Linked DNA regions of Homo sapiens. The protein of the gene in region 1 purifies or fractionates together with the protein of each later gene. This does not show direct contact. Each region holds a gene or a part of one and is shown on either strand. Other genes may lie near its edges.

Region 1 (3,500 bases):
CTCCAGCTATTGTTGTATTGGGTTCTATCTCTCTCTTTAGCTCTAACAATATTTGCTTTATATATCTAGGTTCTCCAGTGTTGGGGACATATATATGTGTGTGTATATATGGGAAGATGAAGAAGCTCTGGAGATGGATGTTGTGATAGTGGCACAATAATATGAATGTACTTAATGCCACAAAGCTTTTACACTTAAAAACAGTTTAAATAGGGCCGGGTGCGGTGGCTCAAGCCTTTAATCCCAGCACTTTGGGAGGCCAGGGCAGGCGGATCACGAGGTCAAGAGTTCAAGACCATTCTGGCTAACACGGTGAAACTCCATCTCTACTAAAAATACAAAAAAAAAAATTAGGCGTGGTGGCTGGCGCCTGTGGTCCCAGCTCCTCGGGAGGCTGAGGCAGGAGAATGGCATGAACTAGGGAGGTGGAGTGTGCAGTGAGCTAAGATTGCGCAACTGCACTCCAGCCTGGGCGACAGAGCAAGACTCTGTCTAAAAAAAAAACAAAAAACAAAGAACAAAAACAGTTTAATAAATTGTACGTTACGTAAACTAAACACATTTTAGACAATCTGTAAGAGAAATGAAGGCAATCGAGGCTGTTTTCACAAGTCCTTGGCTTTAGTATGATAGCTTCCAAGTTGAACCTGATGAGCCTGACCTCCTTGTATTAATGTTTCCATACGCTGGATTGGAATAACTTGTGCAACCAGTGGGATATGTCAGAAGTGACCAGAAATGAGTGGGCTGCCATGTTGTGAGGACACTCACAGCCTGTGAAGAGGTCTAATGATGAGGAAGTGAGGCCTCCAGCCAACAGCCAGTGTTAACTTGCCAACCATGTGAGAAGCTACCTTGGAAGGAGATCCTCCAGCAGCCCCTCTCATGAGAGAGGTCAAGCCAGAGCTAACCTGCTAAACTCCTAAATTCCTGAACCACAGAAACTGTGAGATAATGGTTATTGTTTTAAGCCATTATGTTTTGAGGCCATATGTTATACAGGAATTGAAAACTAATACAGATAGTATGAAGGCTTCTTTCATCAACTGCCTGAGGTTGGTGGTGTCTTCAGTCATTTATATAGATCTATTTGTTTCTGGATAATATTACAGCTATTTAAAGATATTTTGTGGCTCTATTTAGATACAGCTACATTCGCCTTTATATGTTTTGAATACCCAGTAAGTAACTTGAAAATATTTCCTGATATTGGAGGGAGGGGCATTGCTGAATTTCAGAAAGTTAAGGCTAGTAAGAGCTATGACTAATATAATACATCTTGTTGGATACTGTGAATGCTTTTCATTTAATTCTGTAGGTAAAGGAAATAGAATCTGAAGGAAGGCCAGTGTTTTAAGTCTTCTTACTCTAACGTGAATGAATTCATTAGACATATTTATATTTTAAAAAAAAGAGGAAGCAAAATAAAATAAGGGGGCAAAATAAGCAAAGCCAACTTAAGAATTTTTTAAGGGCCAAATCCAGTTATCTTGGCTCTGTATGTGTGTACCTACCTAAAATTCTAATCTCTGTATCTGTGAGTCTCCAGTTTTTCAACCCAAGCTTGACGAGTTGTGGGACCTCCTCCAAATGTTTCAACAGGCTGCTCAGGCTGCCTTGCACGTCACAGCCCCAGGGCAGCATCAGTGCGGTGAGCTGTTCTAGCACGTTCATCCTGTCGACTGGAAGAAACAAAGAGCAGTTCAGGGACTGGATGGTCTCAAAACTGAGGAAGAACAAAGGGGTGTTAGGGGAGGAATGATCTTTATGTTTGGTGGCTCTGCAGCCTACTCAATCTGTAATGAGAATCTACTTAATTTTTGGTTTTTTTTTGGAAAGTATTCAAGCATATACAAACATTATGCAGAAGAATATAATGAAACTATATATACTAATAAGACACCTTCAAAAACATTAAATCATGGGCAATCTTGCTTAATCCTGACCTAATTCCTCCTGTATTATTCTAAAGCAAATCATGGACAATATGAATCAGTTCTTTCCTTTTTTTTCTTTTAACCATAATCACATATCACTATCACACCTAAAAAATCATATCACCAATTCCTTAAGCAAATTTGTCTTGCACATCGGCTACTCTTGACAGTTGCCTCTTCAAAGGAGGAAAGCAGGTGGGATACCGCCTCAAAGTGCAGTGAGCATATGTAAACTGGTGACTTAAAAGACATGGGCCTGTGTTCCTTAAGGGCAGTTTAAGAAAGGCCTAAATGATTTTCCTAAGGAGGGTGCATCTAGTAAGGCACACATGGGTATAAAAGACCTCAGGACCCAGGCTATGTATTTCGACTACCCAGTATACATATTCAAGTATCTAATTTTGGCTGAATTGTCATTCTTACTCAGTTCATGAAGAGCTTCATTTCCATCTTTTTCCAGGTAATTTTCTGATAAATCAAGAATGCTCAGTTTGACCAAATTGTGAAGATTCTGAGCTGGGGAAAAAAAGTAATCCAAAATAAAAAGATTTTCAGGTAAATATAAATGTATTTTGAAGTATCCTTAGAATAATTCTGAGTTTTATCTTCTCTGCTAATGGTAGTGCAAACCATAACTTGCCTTGGTTATTTTAATTATTTCCAAAGGCTCTGGTGTAGGTGTAACCCCCAAATCCCATGGTTATGACCAAATGGGCAAATAGTCATTGGTCCTAGGTTCTGATTAATGAATTCCAGGTCACGTAGAACCTAAAGCAGCATGGGATGTAGTTGTTATGTCATCATGGAAAAATCACTTGGTCTCTCTAAGCCTCAATGTCTTCCTCTATAGAATGAGGTAGTTGGACCAGATAAAATGTAAAGTTGCTTCAATTATAAAATGCCGTTAATCATGCAGGAGAAACAGGAACAACAACAACAACAAAAATGAAATGAGCTGGTTTTGTGTACCTCAACTTAGATGATTTTATTGACATAATAGTTGAGATATTAATAATAAAAACATAGTAAAAAATGGATGAGAAAAAAAACAAATAGCAAAATGGCAGATTCAAATTTATCCATATCAACAATTACATTAAATCTTAATGGACTAAACACTCCAATTAAAAGGCAGAGATAATCAGATATTCAGAACTTTTTTTAAAGCAAGACCCAGTTTTATGCTGTGTACAAAAGACGTGTTTGAATGACAAAGACACAAATATGTTGAGGTAATGGAAAACTATTTTGCATGCAAACATTAATTATATAATAGTACCAGTCTAGCTAAGAATTGCTTAGTGCTTTTCTTCACATATTATCACTCTTGCTTAATCTAGCTGAAGTTTTTTCTGTCAGGGCTAGAAAAATCTCCTTTTTAAAAAAATCAGACAAGTTTTTCATGAATATGTACTCTTGTTATAATATTGGCTATTATTATTTTTAATCAATCATATGAGCCCTTTTCTTAAAGTATCTTCTGGGTTTTGTGCTCTACAATAAAAAACCTGCTGAACTTCTCTTTAAAAGAGTACGTTTGCTATTTGCAGTTCTAAGCCTGTC
Region 2 (3,500 bases), on another chromosome or scaffold:
AGGGCTGTTTTTACCCTTGGCCAACCAGGGCAGCTCAGGAAGCATTCTGAACAAGGCTCCATGACTCTGCAGAGAGAGTCCACAACACTGCACCCAGCCAGCCACAGACTCCCCAAGGCCAGTGATTCTTTTTAAGGCAATAAGAGAATCTGTCAAGAATGCAATGAGCAAACCCTGGTGCCCTCCCAAGTTCCATCAACAGGCAGCAAATAACATCAGACCCCTTAAAATATCAACCTCATGTTGGCTGGTGCCCAGGACCCAGAATGTGATGTTTCTTAGGACTGTGCAATGGTTTCAAAAACAAAGAAACAGAAAACCTACACTTTGCCCAGAACCTGATGACGTCATAGGCCACAGAGCTATCACAATCATACAGAAGGAAAAATCTCTCCATCACAGCATAGATTTTTGAAGTCACTTTTAAATTTTTTATTTTTTTAAGAGATGGGATCTAATTCTGTCGCCTGTGCAGTGATGCAATCATGGCCCACTGCAGCCTTGAACTCCTGGGTTCAAGGGATCCTTCCATCCCAGCCTCCCAAGTGGCTAGGAACTACACCGCACCCAGCTGAATTTTTTATTTTTTGAGAGACAAGGTCTGGTGTTGAACCTCTGGCCTAAAGTGATCCTCCTGCCTCAGCCTCCCAAAGTGCTAGGATTACAGGTGTGAGCTGCCACGCCCAGCAAAGCTTTTGTTTTTAACTTCATCATTTGATATCTGCATTCGCTGCAGCCTTGATGTGCTTTTTGAGAGAAGACAAGGCCTGCATATTTAAAGCAAGGGTCACAGGCTTATGGGAATGAGTTGCCAAAGGGTCCTGGTCTAAGACAATAGGCTTGGTGGATCTGCAGTCAGCCAGAGTGGGTTTGCCCATCTGAGAAGACTCAGCCCTTCTTGTACTCTGGTTAACTACTGGAATCATGAATGGGCATCCAGAGTTCCCAGCTCTTTTGAGAAAACCCTGAGATATAGATTTTCTATAGGAAATTTCCTGGCTTTTAAATATTAGTCTCTAGCCCAGTGCCTGGAACATATATAGTAGCATTCACTTACAGCACATTAGGCCAGGGAAAGCCTTTACTTATTGTCTGAGAAATAGATCCCTGGAAACAAGAAGGACAAATCTTTGAAGCTGTGGCTCAGCAGAGAGAAAGTCTACAACACTGGACCCAGCTGCCCAGACTCCCAAGGCTAGTCATTCTTTTTAAGGCAATGAAAGAATCTGTCAAGAATGCAATTCTTGCTTTTTTCAATACATGAAAGTCTATGGCTTTAATTATAGAGAATTGGAAACACTGTGCAACCTGCTCCTAACCTGTGTAATCTCCATTCAGAACCGCAGAAGGTCTGATCCAATATCCTTGACCTGTGAAGGCAGATGCAATTTCTAGGAGGGCGGGAGCTGACTTTTCTTTTCATTCTTCAACCACATCCCCATTCCTACACTATCTCATAGAGCAGAGAAGTTGCTGAATAAATAGTCAAGGTTTAAAAATGAAATCATTGCTCCCTACTTAAAGAGGTAAAGACTTCTTTCTTAGACAGAGAATCAGATCCTTCACATGCAGAATCATTCTCACTGAATGTCAGAATCAGAAGGGATCCTCAAAATTCTGCCATTCCTCTCTCCCGTCACCCCATTTTACAGATAGAAAAACTGAGGTTCGGAGAGCTAAAACAGGCCTGCCCAGGGGCCTTACCAGACTTCCAGGATGGTGTCATTCCTTTCAAGGGCCTGCAGGAGGGCTTCTGCCCCTAGGTAGGTGATGCAGTTATTGGACAACCTGGAAAAGAAGATACAATGGTGAGCTTCAAGGATTCTTGGTTTTCCTCTTGAAACTGTCCAGTTAAAGAGACTGCAGGAGTTAGCCAGTCTACTGAAGCCCACCTGTCCCTTAGACACATCCTGCTCATGTCTGAGATTCCCAATGAGCTCATCAACAAAGGCTCAGTACCATCAGTGAAATGTAACCGTCTCTCTTCCATTCACTAGATGAGTTTATCAAATTAAGTAGCCACTCCCTTAGGATAGTGGTTAAGTACCTGCATTTTAGTGCTAGACATCCTGGGTTTAAATCCCACCTACACCACTTCTTTTTTGATCTCGAGCAAATTAGTCCCAATCTCCTCATTGGTAAAATGGGCCTAAAAGAGTACCCGTGCCATCGAGCATAAGAATCTAAATTGTGATGGGTGTAAGCAGGCTCCTATTCACATCCACCATCCATCTCCTTGTGGCATGGGTCCTGGGCCATTAAGTCAGCCACCAGTCCCCCATTACCTCCCCACACTCTGCTTGCTGGGAAGACCCACCACTCTCTGCATGCCTAAAACACTTGCACAGTACTTGATATGGTTTGGCTGTGTCCCCACCCAAATCTCTTGAATTCCCACGTGTTGTGGGAGCGACCCAGTGGAAGGTAATTGAATCCCATCCTGTTCTCATTACAGTAAATAAGTTTCATGATATCTGATGGTTTTAAAAAGGGGAGTTTCCCTGAACAAGCCCTCTTCTCCTGTCTGCTGCCATGTGAGATGTGCCTTTCACCTTCAGCCATGATTGTGAGACCTCCCCAGCCACGTGGAACTGTAAGTTCAATAAAACTCTTTCTTTCATAAAGTGCCCAGTCTTGGGTATATCTTTATCATCAGCATGAAAACGGACTAATACAGTACTTAATTGATAGAAAATAACCAATGAGCAGTAATATTTCTATTTTCAGGGGGGTCTTTGAGGGCACAGAGACAGAGATTAGAGAACATATGAGGTAGCTGACAACAGGGAGGGGAGACAGGATAGGGCCAGGGACAGCAACAGAGGAGTCATGTGTTTCCCAGGTTGCTCTTTTGGTTACAGCTTTGCCTTCCAATAATGTCCACTCCAGGTCCTCCCCCTTTCCCACAATTTCAGGAATGTCTTACAAGTTGACCCTAAGGCAATGCCAATTGTAATTGCCAGTATTTATTGAACTTCTATTAGATTGGTGCAAAAGTAATTGCAGTTTTTGCATTGTTGAAATTTGCCATTTGATATTGGAATACATTCTTAAATAAATGTGGTTATGCTATACATCATTTTAATGCACAATTCTCACTTTATGATTTTTTGCTAATGACTTAATACTTTCTGTTTATTTTATATTTATTTTAGACTATGAAAATGATGTTAGACAAAAAGCAAATTCAAGCAATTTTCTTATTTGAATTCAAAATGGGTTGTAAAGCAGCGGAGACAACTCACAACATCAGCAATGCATTTGGCCCAGGAACTGCTAACTAACGTATAGTGCAGTGGTGGTTCAAGAAGTTTTGCGAAGGAGATAAGAGCCTTGAAGATGAGGAGTGTACTGGCAGGCCATCAGAAGCTGACAATGACCAATTGAGAGCAATCATCAAAGCTGATTTTCTTACAACTACTTGAGAACTCAACATCGACCATTCCATGGTCATTCAGCATTTGAAGCAAATTGGAAAGGTGAAAAACCTCGATAAGTGT

Evidence for each region. The genes of interacting proteins can lie anywhere in the genome.
Region 2: the proteins of NLRC4 (region 1) and NOD2 purify together in Homo sapiens (affinity purification with western blotting, with the first as the bait; 2 studies listed by BioGRID). This does not show direct contact.

The regions. Positions count from the first base shown.
Region 1 is NC_000002.12:32,233,887-32,237,386, forward strand, and holds part of NLRC4 (NLR family CARD domain-containing protein 4), read right to left. Parts: intron 2,454-3,500; coding exon 2,361-2,453; intron 1,683-2,360; coding exon 1,515-1,682; intron 1-1,514.
Region 2 is NC_000016.10:50,728,106-50,731,605, reverse strand, and holds part of NOD2 (nucleotide-binding oligomerization domain-containing protein 2), read right to left. Parts: exon of another isoform or gene 3,156-3,500; intron 2,594-3,155; exon of another isoform or gene 2,456-2,593; intron 1,789-2,455; coding exon 1,705-1,788; exon of another isoform or gene 1,653-1,704; intron 1-1,652. UniProt on the Homo sapiens protein: Pattern recognition receptor (PRR) that detects bacterial peptidoglycan fragments and other danger signals and plays an important role in gastrointestinal immunity.